Homo sapiens: one gene and its partner. The protein of the gene in region 2 purifies or fractionates together with the protein of the main gene of each other region. This does not show direct contact. Each region holds a gene or a part of one and is shown on either strand. Other genes may lie near its edges.

Region 1 (7,026 bases), on a different chromosome or scaffold from region 2:
GCTGAGGCAGGAGAATGGCGTGAACCTGGGAGGCAGAGCTTGCAGTGAGCCAAGATTGTGCCACTGCACTCCAGCCTGGGCGATAGAGCCAGACTCCGTATCAAAAAAAAAAAAAAGTTAGCAGCCTTTATTCGGTCAAATATTTTATTCATGAATCATGCGTTTTGGGTAAGTTGCTAAATATTTGAGATTGCTGGTCAGGAGCAGTGCTGATAAATGTTTTTGGAAAGTGATTACTAAGCTGCTCTGGGACTGAAACGTTCTGGGGGAGCTTGCATCTGCTCACTTTTTCACTCGTGCACCACTGTTATTGCAGAGCCCAGGTAGATGACTGGACCAGGATGGGGTTGGCGTTTGAGGTTTCTGTTGTGTTCAGGCTCTTGCAACTTCCTTGAAGGGAGAACAACCTTTTTAGTAGGTGCTACACTTCATGAGATGTAATGAAAGCACATGGGCGTGGGTTTTTTCTTGGTGTTAGCCATGGTGGTTTGTTTTCACATTGTCATAAATACGTGTCACGTTCTTCACTCATTTACTCATTCATTTAGAAAAAGCTTTTTTATTGAGTGTCAGGCCCTGAGGACACAACAGGGGTCAAAAGCCACACTACCTTGGCCAGGCAAGGTGGCTCACGCCTGTAATCCCAGCACGTGTGTGGGGCCCATGCTAGACCTGTGGGGGAGAGACAGCTGACAGCTAAGTTGCTCTTTCCCAAGGGCTGAACAGTCTAGTGAAGAGATGGCCCCTATGTATTCAGCATCCAGTGCTGGGAAGACACAGGAAGAGGAGGCTCTTTGGGCTGGGGCCGGGGTTTGGGGACAGCCTCCTAGAGAAGGTCGTTGAGCTGGTCTTCATGGATAGAGGAGTGGCATCTAGAAAGGAAGGAGGGATGCACCCTCATCCCAGGCAGAGGAAGGAGGAAAGGACAGGAGGGAATTGTAAGAGGGAAAGAACCATAGCTATTTCTAAGTGACCAGAGCAAAAGGTGGGCAGTGACAATAGCAACAGAGAAGACTGAGAGCTAGAAGGACCCAGTGTCCGGTTTTGTTTTGTTTTTTAAATTAAAAAAAAAAAGTTTTTGGGGGCCAAGTGCGGTGGCTCACGACTGTAATCCCAGCACTTTGGGAGGCCAAGGCAGGCAGATCACCTGAGGTTAGGAGTTCAAGAACAGCCTGGCCAACATGGTGAAACCCCATCTCTACTATAAATACAAAAATTGGCTGGGTGCAGTGGCTCACACTTGTAATTCCAGCACTTTGGGAGGCCGAGGCGGGTGGATCACCTGAGGTCAGGAGTTTGAGACCAGCCTGACCAACATGGAGAAACCCCATCTCTACTAAAAATACAAAATTAGCTGGGCGTGGTGGCACATGCCTGTAATCCCAGCTACTTGGGAGGCTGAGGCAGGAGAATCACTTGAACCCAGGAAGCAGAGGTTGAAGTGAGCCGAGATCATGCCATTGCCCTCCAGCCTGTGCAACAAGAGTGAAACTCTGTCTCAAAAAACAAAAACAAAAAAACCCACAAAAATTAGCTGGGCATGGTGGCACACACCTGTGGTCCCAGCTACTTGGGAGGCTGAGACAGGAGAATCACTTGAACCTGGGAGGCGGAGGTTGCAGTGAGCTGAGATCACGCCACTGCACTCCAGCCTGGGCAACAAGAACAAAACTTTGTCTCAAAAAAAAAAAAAAGAAAGAAATAAGGAATTTGGACCTTATTTTGCAGGCAGTGTAGAACCATCAAAGAGTTCAAAACAAGCAAATGATATGATCGGAATTTGTAATTTAGAAATAACAATAGCTAACCTGTTGAAAGTCCCTTTTCTCTACGAGTACAGAATTGGACCTTATGTGTTATTGGATCCAATCCTCACACTTCCTCCCTATAAGGTAGGTACAGTCACCTTCTCTTATCAGCAGTTCCAAAATTTAGTGCATTCTAAACGTCAGAAGTGTGTATGTGTGTGTGTAAATTGGACCTGAAAACTCGTTTGGTGCTAAAATTTGGCCTGAACAAATGAGACTGTTTGTAATCTTTATTTACTGCATGCATCACAGTGGCATGATCTTGGCTCACTGCAACCTCTGCCTCCCAGGTTCAAGCGATTCTCCTGCTTCAGCCTCCCGAGTAGCTGGGATTACAGGCACCCGCCACCACACCCAGCTAACTTTTGTATTTTTAGTAGAGACAGGGTTTCACCGTCTTGGCCAGGCTGGTCTTGAACTCCAAACCTCGTGATCCACCCGCCTCGGCCTCCCAAAGTACTGGGATTACAGGCATGAGCCAGTAGCTTTTTACATTTAAAGTAGGGTCCAGCTGAAGTGAATTCATTTTACAAACGCTAAAAGCAGTGAGAACTAGCTGAGAGCATTTTGAGAAGAAAAGTGAAAGGTATGAAGGTTTTCCTGAAGTTAGTATCCACTTTTGTAAAATCTAGGCCAGTGGTTCTGGGCCAGGGGTGGTTTTCCCACCCAGGGAACATTTGGTAATATCTGGAGACATTTTTGGTTGTCATGATGTGGGGGAGGTGATATGGTTTGGCTGTGTCCCCACCCAAATCTTATCTTGAATTGTAGCTCCCATAATTCCCATGTGTTGTGGGAGGGACCCAGTGGGAAATAATTGAATCATGAGGGCAGTTTCCCCCATACTGTTCTCGTGGCAGTGAGTAAGTCTCAGGAGATCTGATGGTTTTACAAGGGAAAACCCCTTTGGCTTGGTTCCTATTTCTCTCTTGTCTGCTACCATGTAAGACATGTCTTCTGCCTTCCACCATGATTGTGAGGCTTCCCTAGCCACATGGAACTGTGAGTCCATTGAATCTCATTTTGTTTATAATTACCTAGTTTCTGGCATGTGTTTATCAGCAGTGTGAAAACGGACTAATACTGTATGTAACTAATACTGGCATCTAGGTAGAGGGTAGGGATGCATCTCAGTATCCTGTTATGCCCCACACCAAAGGATTATTGAGCCCCAAATGTCAATAGTGCTGATATTGAGAAACCCCAGTCCGGGCTTCATGTACTTATCTGGCCTCTCTAGAACACTGGTTCCTTAACTTGAATGTGCATCAGAATCACCTGGGGGTCTTGTTGAAATTCGGGTTGCTGGACCCCACCCCCAGAGTTTCTGATTTGGAAAGTCAGGTGGGGCCTGAGAGTTGGCATTTCTGCCAAGTTTCCAGGTGACGTTGATGCTGATGCTGCTAGTCCAGGGACCACACTTAGAACCACGGCTCTACAAGAAAGGAGGGTTATTTGTCACTGTGCTTGCCTATGTACAACCACCAAGAAAGAATACTGAATACAGAAATTAGCCAGGCATGGTAGTGTGCACCTGTAATCCTAGCTACTTGGGAGACTGAGACGGGAGGATCACTTGAGCCCGGTAGGCGGAGGTTGAGGTGAGCTGAGATCGTGCCACTGCACTCCAGCCTGGGTGACAGACCAAAACCCTGTCTCAAAAAAAAAAAAAAAATACTGCTTACATTTTATCCTCTTTTTTTTTGTCACCTTCTGGGATATATTTACCTGGGGTCATTCACAGATAGCCACCTAGTTCACTGTAATCAAACTGCATATGACAAAGCTAGATACGGTCAGCACTCCAAAGAGTATTAAGCCAATGTGGAATATCAAAGCTTAATGCCATTACACCTGGGAGTCACAGGTCATTAGTGGTTTGGGTGGTCAGCTTAGGGTTCTGCTTAGAAACCTTTATGGATTAATGTCTCGTGAATGGTTAATAGAAAATGGTACTACTTCTTGTATGAAGTCATTAGTATTTTGCTGAAGTAATAATTACCTTAAGCTCTTTAATTTAAATTTAAGTTTAAGAATTTGAACTACAGTGGTGACTTTCCTGGTAGGGGAAACAGAAAATAAGACTCTGCTTTCAGAGCGGAACTAAAATGGTGAGACAGTAGGAACCAGTATGTTTGCTTTTTGGACTTTTTTGCTGTGGACTGCACCAAAAATGTAGACAGTCAGTTGATTGAATGATACAATTTTTAAAAGGTAAAAGCTTTATAAAGCCTTATAAATAAGTTAAGGCTATAGGCCTACTGTCTTCACTTTTGAGAAATAGAGTTTGTGGATGGACGTACTTATACTGTTGCATTAGGGGCTCGTAGGCCAAGATTGGTTTCTGCAGGAAACTCAATTTTGTTTGTCCCAAGTTAAAGATAAATCTCATGTGATTTAAAATGTTTTGAGATGTTGCACTTAGGCTGGGAAAGAGTAAAGATTACAGAAAACCAACTTTTAGATGTTTTTTAGCATTTTCCTTTTTTAAAAATTATACCAAATATGTAATATATTTGCTTCCACTTAGATATATCTAAGTTTATTAAGATGGTTTGGGGAAAAATTTGTGTATTTACCAATTGTTCACATAGAAACAATCTTAAATAAATAACTTGATTTTTAAGTGTTATGCCTGGGAGGAAGGCTGGCATAGCTGGAATTCATTAGTTAATACAGAAAACCAGGATGTTAACTGCTGTATTTTCATTGTCATGCAGAGCCTAAAAGTAGACTTTAATTTGTGTTATAAAATAAACTGAAGACTTGAGAAGGCAGGAAGCCTGGGTGGCCACCCCACACATTTACTCCTGTATTGTTAGGGTGATCCTTCATTGTTACAATCATTTTCTTTTTATAGCATAGTTAAGAACAAAGGCTTGGGAGCCAGAATGCCTCAGTTTGAATCCCAGCCCTGTGATCTTAGACAAGTTATTTAACCTCACTGTATCACAGTTTTCTCATGTGCAAAATGGACATGAGTCCGTTTTGTACCTGCTTTACAGAGTTTTGTGAGGATTAGGTGAATTAAACCACGTGGAACAGTGCCTAGCACAGAGAAAACATTATGCAAGTGTTAGTTGTTATTGTTTTCATTCCCATTTATTTTCCATTTAATTGCTTTAATCTTAAAGACTGGGACAGAGAAAGCACTATACAAGTGTTAGCTATTATTATTTTCATTTCCACTTATTTTGCATTTTGTTACTTTAATCTTACGAAAGAGTAATATGTTTCTACTTTGTATGCATGTTTGTGTGTGCACGTGAATAAGTGAAAATAAAAAAATTTTTCCTGTTTGAATAGGACAATACCATTTGAGGGGTTATTTACAATCCTAAATTCTTAGAACTGCCTTTGAGTCATGCCTTTTCTTTATTTCCATATTTGGTTACTTGCAGGTCATGTCAGTGATTAGTTTCACTTAGACATCTTTCCCCTGCTATATTTGAGATCCTCAAGATCGGGTTCATTGATTCACTAGAAAGATTGACACATTATAGTCATACGCATGGCTGTGATTTATCATAGCCAAAAGACGCAAAACAAAATCAGCACATGGGGTGAAATCCAGAGGAAACCAGACACAAGGCTTCCAAGAGTCCTCTTCCTGTGGAGTCACAGGACAGGCTAATTCAGATTGAATTAAGACAACATGTGTGAAATATTGTTTATCAGGGAAGCTCCTTAGAGACTTTATTCAGTGTTAGAGGCTGGTCATGTAGGTGCCCTTGGCTAATGTTCCAAAATTCCAAACTCTCAGAAGGAAGGTAGGTGGTCAACATAAACCACATATTTTATACAGGCATGAAGCACAGTGAGCCATTCTTAGGAGTTAGGGAATGGTGAGGTCCCCTCTGGATAAACAAGGTCCCAGACACCTGCCAAGGGCCAACCTTGCAAGCAAGACTTTCTAAGGACAGCAGCAGCAGGCCTGCTGTGGGAACTCTTTTCTGCCCACCTGCCCATAATTACCCTAGTGTTTGTCCTCATCATCTTTTAAACCTCATTTTTCAAAGCCTATTAACTGGCTTCCCTGAGTTCCAGCATACTGTACTTGGATCTGTCCCACTAATCTCCTATCTTTAACTAGGCTTTTATTGTGTCTTTTTCCTGCTCATGACCTTTCATTAGCTCCTTATTTAATCATGTCTGTAAAAGGACTTTGGGGGCCGGGCGCAGTGGCTCATGCCTGTAATCACAGAACATGGGGAAGCTGAGGCAGGCAGATTGCTTGAGGCCAGGAGTTAGAGACCAGCCTGGCCAACATAGTCAAACTCTGTCTCTACTAAAAATACAAAAATTAGCCAGGTGTAGGGGCTCATGCCTGTAATCCTCCCAAGAAGCTGGGCTGAGGCACGAGAATTGCTTGAACCCAAGGGGCATAGGTTGCAGTGAGCCAAGATCATGCTGCTGCCCTCCAGCTTGGGCAATAAAGCAAGACTCTGTCCCCAAAAAAAAAAAAAAAAAAAAGGACTTTGGGAACCCCATAACTGCTCCCTGCTAAGCTTTATTTCCACCTTCTATCTCTCATTTATTATGGTTCTTTTGTGTCCAGTGAAGTCAGTGTGTGTTCTGTCCCACTCACACCTGGTACATTTCCCACCTGGGTGCCTTTGCCTCCCTCACCAGGAACCTCACTTGCCCTCTCTCCTGTATTCAGACCCTCCTTCATCTCCTAGATCCACTTCAAGTTCCACCTCCTCCATTGAATAATTCTTCCCAGCCCATCATTCTCTGTCCTTTCTGAGCTTCCTTCAACACTCCTAGTATATTACTGATGATGCCTAGTTAATTACAATCAGGTATTAGTTCCTGTTGCTTTGTGTTTATTCATCTTATCTTCCCACATAGTCTGTACTCCACCAGGTACTGCATAACTAGCTACTGGTTGAATGATACAGACTTAACCATTTCTGCACAGTAGACATTTCCTCTGCTGTGTTTAGCTTTAATAATCTGCTAGTTCTTTCCTAAGAAGCAGATGGTAATATAATGAATGATACTTGTTTCTAGAATTTAGGTATTCATCTTCCCTCTCTACAAAGTATGCTCAGCAAATCTTTCTGAGAGTTGTTAAGACATTATTAGCACATATATACTGATTTCATGATGTATTTTTGTCATACTTCATGGTGAAATAATCTCTTTATTCATTTTTCTTTGTCAACCACATACTACTTTGCTCAAAACACTTCCCTTCAAGGTCAAGGTGAAT
Region 2 (6,892 bases):
CTGTCAATACCACTATTACATCAGAAACTCCATGTTGCAACCACTGAGAAACTAACGTCACTGCTAGTGCTGCCAACTAAGGCAGCCGCCTGGCTATTAGGGCAATTCATACCAGCAAGGCAAGGAGCTCCATAATGAGCCACTTTCCTCTGGTTGCTTATACCTGAATTTAAGTTTGATATGGATGAGCCTGACTGGCAAAGCCTAGGTTATATTCTTGAACCCAGTTGTAATGGAGGCTGGGAAACTGAGTTCTAAATAAAAGAAAGTAGGCTGGGTGCGGTCGCTCACACCTGTAATCCCAACACTTTGAAAGGCCAAGGCAGGTGGATCACTTTACTTCAGGAGTTCAAAAACAGCCTGGCCAACATGGGAAACCCCATCTCTACTAAAAATACAAAAGTTAGCAAGGCATGGTGGCACATGCCTGTAGTCCCAGCTACTCAGGAGGCTGAGGCACGAGAATCGCGTGAACTTGGGAGGCGGAGGTTGCAGTGAGGTGACATTGTGCCCCTGCACTCCATCCCGGGCGACAGAGCAAGACTCTGTCTCAAAAAAAAAAAAAAAAAGGAAGTGATTCGTATGACATGAATCCAGTAGCAATATGCGATAGGCACTTGGCCAAAATATGCATTCACTTTTTTATTCTCATGGAACTTGTATTTTTGTAGGACAGACAAAAAATAAACACATAAATGAACATAATGATGGATAGCACTGGATGCCACAAAAAGAAACAGAGCTGTAAACTAGGGTATTCAAGAAGGGCTTTTCTCAGATGAGCAGTGTTGAAGGATGTGAGGAAGCAGCAAGTACAGAGGCTCCGGGATGGAAACTGACTTGACATTTCTAAAGTGCTGCAAGGAGGCTGGAGCTGAGAAGTGAAGGAGAGGGTAGAAAATGAGGTGGTAAGGGCAGCCATGGACCATGTCACGTAGGCCTTGCAGGCCATGGTTTCAGACTTTGTTAAGTGGCAAGGGAATGGCATAATCTGACATGTTTTAAAAGAATCACACTGGCTGCTATGTGGAGAATATTTTATAGAGAACAAGGTTAGAGACCCAGTTGATCAATGTATGAGCAGAGGGATCCAAGCACTAAAATCTGCCCAGATGGGTGGGGAGATGGGATATGAAGGGAATCTTGAGAGAGGAGTAGAAACTGCCTAAGAGAAAAGGTTAGAGGGCATCTTGGGCAAAGGGAAGAACAGGAGCAAGAACACAGGGGCGTGGAAGGCCCCAGCATATTTGGAAAACTTTGAGTGCTCTAGTGAGGTTACAGAGAGGGATCCAGACATGAGGCTGGAAAGGAGGAGAGACCTAAATGGCCAAGGGCTGTTCTTTTAACTTTTCACATCACCAAAGTAAAATGTTGGTACAGTGATGGGGGCTGAACCTGAGGCATAACTGGGGCTACAACTTCTCTGGGAGGCTAGTCCTCCCAATAGAGTTTCCAAGAGAGCAGGAAGGCCACACAGTTCCTTGCTCTTTCCCCTCTCCTCAGACTAGAAAAAACATGGGCAATCCACAGTACTGAGCTGTTAGTATCAAAGATGGGCACACCCACTCACTGTGGTGTGGCAATCAGATAGCAGAGATCTGAAGGTGTCTCCAACAGGTCAGTACCCGGGAAAAACTGTCCAAGTAAATAAATATCTTGTTCTCCACACTGTCTTAGTCCGTTTCTGCTGCTATAACACAAATACCTTAAATGGGATACTTTATCAACAAATTTATAAACAATAGAAATCTATTTGTCCCAGTTCTGGAGGCTGGGAAGTTGACAGAGCAAGGCCTCAACAGATTTGGTGTCTGGTGAGGGCCCTCTGCCTCACAGATGGCGTCTTCCTGCTGTGCCCTCACAGTACAGAAGGGTGAAACAAGTTCCCTCAGGCCTCCTTTACAAGGGCACTAATCCCATTCATTAGCAACCAAATCACCTCCGGAAAGCCTCACATCTTTTTTTTTTTCTCTTGAGACAAGTCTCACTCTGTCTCCCAGGCTGGAGTGCAGTGGCGTGATCTCGGCTCACTGTAACCTCCACCTCCCAGGTTCAAGCGATTCCTGTGCCTCAGCCTCCCAGCTACTCGGGAGCCTCCCGAGTAGCTGGGATTATAGGCACGTCCCACCACGCCCAGATAATTGTATTTTTAGTAGAGGCGGGGTTTCACCATGTTGGTCAGGCTGGTCTTCAACTCCTGACCTCAAACGATCTACCCTTCTCAGCCTCCCAAAGTGCTGGGATTACAGGCATGAGCCACTATGCCCACCCAAGTCCCACATCTTATTATCATCACCTTGAGGATTAGGTTTCAACACATGAATGTGGTGGGGATATAAACATCCAGACCTCTTATTCCACCCCAGATTCCCAGGCTATAAGTACACTGAGCCTTAAAGGAAGTATTAGCTGTGGGTTGGTGAAGAGAATTCCAGAAGGAAAGAACAACGTATGCAAATGCCAGGAACCAGAAAGCACCCTTCTCCATGGGCAACAGAACCAAGGCTGGAAAGACAGGTTGGGCCTAGATTGGGAAATGCTTGGATAATGGGGTAGTCACCAGAACGGTTTATTCCTAAACCAGATTCCCCAGTTAAATAGAATAACCAAAATCGAAATGTGCAATGCTTGCTTTTTGTCCATGATAAGCTGCAGGGGAAACATTTGCAGGTTGGCTGACTGAATCCACAGATGGAAGTCTCTGTAAATTTAGGACAGATTGTCTCAGTTAATCTCTAGGACCAGTCAGACCTCTGTAATGATGGATTTGCCTGACATGAGAAAGTTCTACCTCTCATAACACAGTTTTCAAAAGTTAACTGCAATGTGGCCTTTATGTGATGAAATCTGGCTCAGGTGCCAAAGATCTGCAACATTAAGACCTTTGCAGGTGGGGATTCACTGTGATTTTAGGTTCCTTGGATCCTTCAGTCTTCTACTTCAGCTGAGGGTTCCCACCCAAGCCAGGACTCAGCCTTTGTTATTCTCATGCATTAGCCACAGGTAGCTATGTCACTTCAGAGTTCTGAGCACGATGAAAATGCAGACTTTACAAGCACTTCAAGTCAAGACAAGTGATTAGCATTGGCTCCAAGGGTTTAAAAGGAACTCAGCCAAAAACTGTTCAAAACTGGCCATTTCATCTGAACTGGGACAGCAGGGCACAAGGAGAGAAAAGGCTGGTTGGATTAATGCAGCCCCCGCTTTCCATGGCTCTACTGTATTTCACTGAGAGTTGCTACCAACTCCTGCGCGCGCCCCCACCCGCCCACTCCACTAATCTCGTGTCTTAATCAGAGATACAGGGAACCCGTGGAGAAGATGAAGTACAACTGGGATAAGAAGATCGTAGGTGTTTTACGTTTGAATTTAAGCAACAAATCTGTCGAGCTGTTTTTCTCCACTTCCCCCTTAGGCTGGGTCACGCGAGGGGAAAGCTCCGACCGCCCAGGACTCCTTAGAGTGAATCCCATCCCCTCAAGTTCCTCTCCAGAATCTCCCCCTCCTCCCGCCTTTGCCCTGCAACTCCTCCCTCTCACTCTGAGTCGCACGCACCCCTGTCCCCTCCCTGCCCGCAAAACTACTCTTCAAAGGCTTCCTTCCGGGCACCGCGAAGCCAGCGTGCTCAGCATTCAGGGAGGCAGCGGCGCTCGCCTTCATCCAGGACAACAAAACTGCCATTTCCGAAGAGAAAGGAAACGGCTCGCGGTTTCTGGGGTTCCCAAGCGCGCGCCTGCGAGGGAGGCCGCGAGCCGAGTCGCCACGCCCAGAACCCCGAGCCCGCCCCCGCGCCACCCAGCCCGGCCCCGCCGCCCCGGCTGCGCACGCGACGCCCCCTCCAGGCCCCGCTCCTGCGCCCTATTTGGTCATTCGGGGGGCAAGCGGCGGGAGGGGAAACGTGCGCGGCCGAAGGGGAAGCGGAGCCGGCGCCGGCTGCGCAGAGGAGCCGCTCTCGCCGCCGCCACCTCGGCTGGGAGCCCACGAGGCTGCCGCATCCTGCCCTCGGAACAATGGGACTCGGCGCGCGAGGTGCTTGGGCCGCGCTGCTCCTGGGGACGCTGCAGGTGCTAGCGCTGCTGGGGGCCGCCCATGAAAGCGCAGCCATGGCGGGTAAGTGGCTGCGGGGGTCGTCAGCCCCGTTCGTGGGAGGCAGCGCGCTGCCGAGGCTTGGGTTCCCAAGTTGGGCTCTGGTACAGAAAGTTCCGCGTGTGTCTGGCCGAACGCTCGGGGCGGACCCAGAGGTGACCGGGCGGGGTGGGGGAAACTGAGGTTTGGACCAGTCACCCGCTGGCCCCGGGGCCGCCTGCTGAGGAAATTGCCTGGTGCTTCCCCTCTCGCTTTTTGGATGCGGCGGTCGCAGGCCGGGACGGGTGCGCATAACCTGTTGAGTTACCGCAAGTTGGTTTTTACAGCCTTTCCCTGAAGTTAATGTTTGCCGAGGTTAGAGTTTCTAAGGCTTCCGTTTGTAAACAAGATTAGCTGAGTTGAAAAATATGTCTACCTAGGCCCGCGGAAACGTCTCCCAGTTAGTCGGGGAGCTTTTCAAGCGTCCCCCAGGCATTTCAGCGTCTAATATTATGCAGTATTATCCAGATGAATTACAATCTTTAGGTCCCCCTGACGCTCGAAGTTAGACTTCGGGGCTCTTGGAGCTAGTTGGGAGCTTTTGGGGAGCGCGCCCCGCCCTCGCGGTAGTTGAGGCGGCCGCCCCCATGGCGGGGCGCTCTCCACCCCTCGTGTGCCATAAACACCCGGCCGAGGCGCGCGGCAGCTGCGCAGCGTTAAGGGCACAGCTGCACGGTCGCCGGTGGCCCTTGTCGTCGCTAGTAAGGTCGTAACAGGATGATGTTGACTTTGCTTTTCTGTGTAGGGCGGAATTTGTTTCGTTTTAGGCCCTTGGCCCTTTGGAGACTTCAAACAGCCCTTTTTGGATGAAACCAGGAAGTTGGGATTTGTTGTGTAAATACTGTTTTCCTTTGTCAACTGTTAGAGAAGTCAGGTCCCTAGGTAATGGTCAGTAAACTAGGATAAGTTAAGTAACCCAAGGTTTTCATGGTTTTAAGTTCTATCCATCCACTGTATATGTTAGCCTTAGGTTCGTTTTATCCAGCAAAAGAAAAAGGCAGTTTGTAAATCTGGAAGGTTCAGGCACAACACTTGCTTTTTCTGGAATAACCTGGGTGAATTAACAATTTTTCTTTGTTTTGCTGAAGTTTTTTTGTTTGCTTAATTGTGCGTGTGACAAACTGGCTTCGCAGACCTAATTTTGAGATCATTTAAGAAAAAAAGTGGTAAAATCATGTCCATCGTGTATCTTGGTCCTAATTTTATACCAATTATCTCATGAGGTGAGGTCTCCATTTTTAAAAATTTGTTGCTGTGTTTGTGAAGATAAGCCTTACTGTTTCAATGAATTACCGATTAGAGAAACTGTGAGTGACCATGCTTTTCTTTCTTTTGCCCTGATAACACAGATTTTTTTTGCCCTATTTTAGCACTGTTTGTTCTGTTTATTACTTAATGTCTTACTAGAGGTTAGTCCCATTTGCAAAACTTGAAATGCTCTACAGTAGGCGAGCCCTGAATTCATAAACTAGTATAACCAACCAGAGGTGGAATCTGTTTCTACAGACTATATAATGTCACCTTGCAACTAGACTAAAAGGTATACAATAGAAGATTTCTCAAAAAAGCTAGTAACTGTTAATCGTAGTCTTCATGTATAGTGTAATCTGTATACAATGTCATTACGAAGTATAGTGATTTTTAGCCATCATACTAAAACTCTTAATGGCTGATTTTTACTGGGTACATATTCTGTGCATCCCACGCTATGCTAATTTAGGTCCATAAATCATCCCATTGAATCCTCACAGTATCGTCCCCATTTTATAGATAAGTAAGCTAATTTATGGCAAGTAAAACAATTAATACATGTTTGGTTTCAGATCAAAATCCAAATTTTCAATTAACCATTTCACCACTAAGCCGCGTTAGATGATGATGGCTCTTGAAGTAGATAATACTTTTATTCCACAGTATTACCATTGCCTAGAATATTGTGGGAGAAGATAAAAACATTATTGAAATTCTGCTTTTAAAATATTCTTCACAGTCAGCTGCATAGCTTTATAAATATCAGTTGAAGGAGGAGGGAGACTATGAGCAAGTTTGCAAATCAGCAAACAGGATTTATTGTAGTATTCCAATGAATGACATTAACATTAACAGGATGGGAGGGGCGGCTGTTAGTCATTACTCTTAGTGGCAAGTGACAGAAACCCACCTTGAACAACTGTGGAAAGAAGGGACTTTTTTGACTTGTAACTGAAAAGTGCAAGGATTGAGGTGGCTTGAAAATGGCTGTATTCAAGTGTTCAAATAAGTCGCCAAGAAATTAAGAAATCATCGCGTTAAGAGCGACAATAGCAGGGAAACAAAAACAGGCTGTTGTGTTAGCCCAGCCAAAAGATGATGGTGAGTGGCAATGGAGATAAAAGGGTGGATTCTAGATCTATGGGGGGTTGGGACTAATCACTTGCTGATGGATTGGAGGGTGGGATGAGGAAGAGAGAAGAATCAAAGGATGACCTCTTGGTTTTGGGGTTGAGCAGCTGGTAATGCAACAATTGGGAAGGTTGGGGGAGGAGCAGGTTTATAGTAGAAAATCAGTAGTTCCATTTTGGCACTCATATCTGCAGGCTTAGGAATCAAACTATCTGGTCCAATTCCAGTCTCTGCCACTTTGTATCTGGGCGGCCTTCTCTGGGCCTCAGTTCTTGTCTGCAAAACAATACTCCTAAGAATTGTTGAGAGGGTTAGATGAGCTAATGCACATAACCCTGGCTTGTGGTAAGCACCTAATAATGTTGGCAATTGTTTGCTATCTGCT

What was found. The genes of interacting proteins can lie anywhere in the genome.
Region 1: the proteins of TMEM123 (region 2) and WDFY1 purify together in Homo sapiens (affinity purification with mass spectrometry; 3 studies listed by BioGRID and IntAct, with this or other methods). This does not show direct contact.

Annotation. Positions count from the first base shown.
Region 1 is NC_000002.12:223,935,314-223,942,339, reverse strand, and holds part of WDFY1 (WD repeat and FYVE domain-containing protein 1), read left to right. Parts: intron 1-7,026. UniProt on the Homo sapiens protein: Positively regulates TLR3- and TLR4-mediated signaling pathways by bridging the interaction between TLR3 or TLR4 and TICAM1.
Region 2 is NC_000011.10:102,449,742-102,456,633, reverse strand, and holds the start of TMEM123 (porimin precursor), read left to right. Parts: upstream 1-3,868; 5' UTR 3,869-4,010; coding exon 4,011-4,110; intron 4,111-6,892. UniProt on the Homo sapiens protein: Implicated in oncotic cell death, characterized by cell swelling, organelle swelling, vacuolization and increased membrane permeability.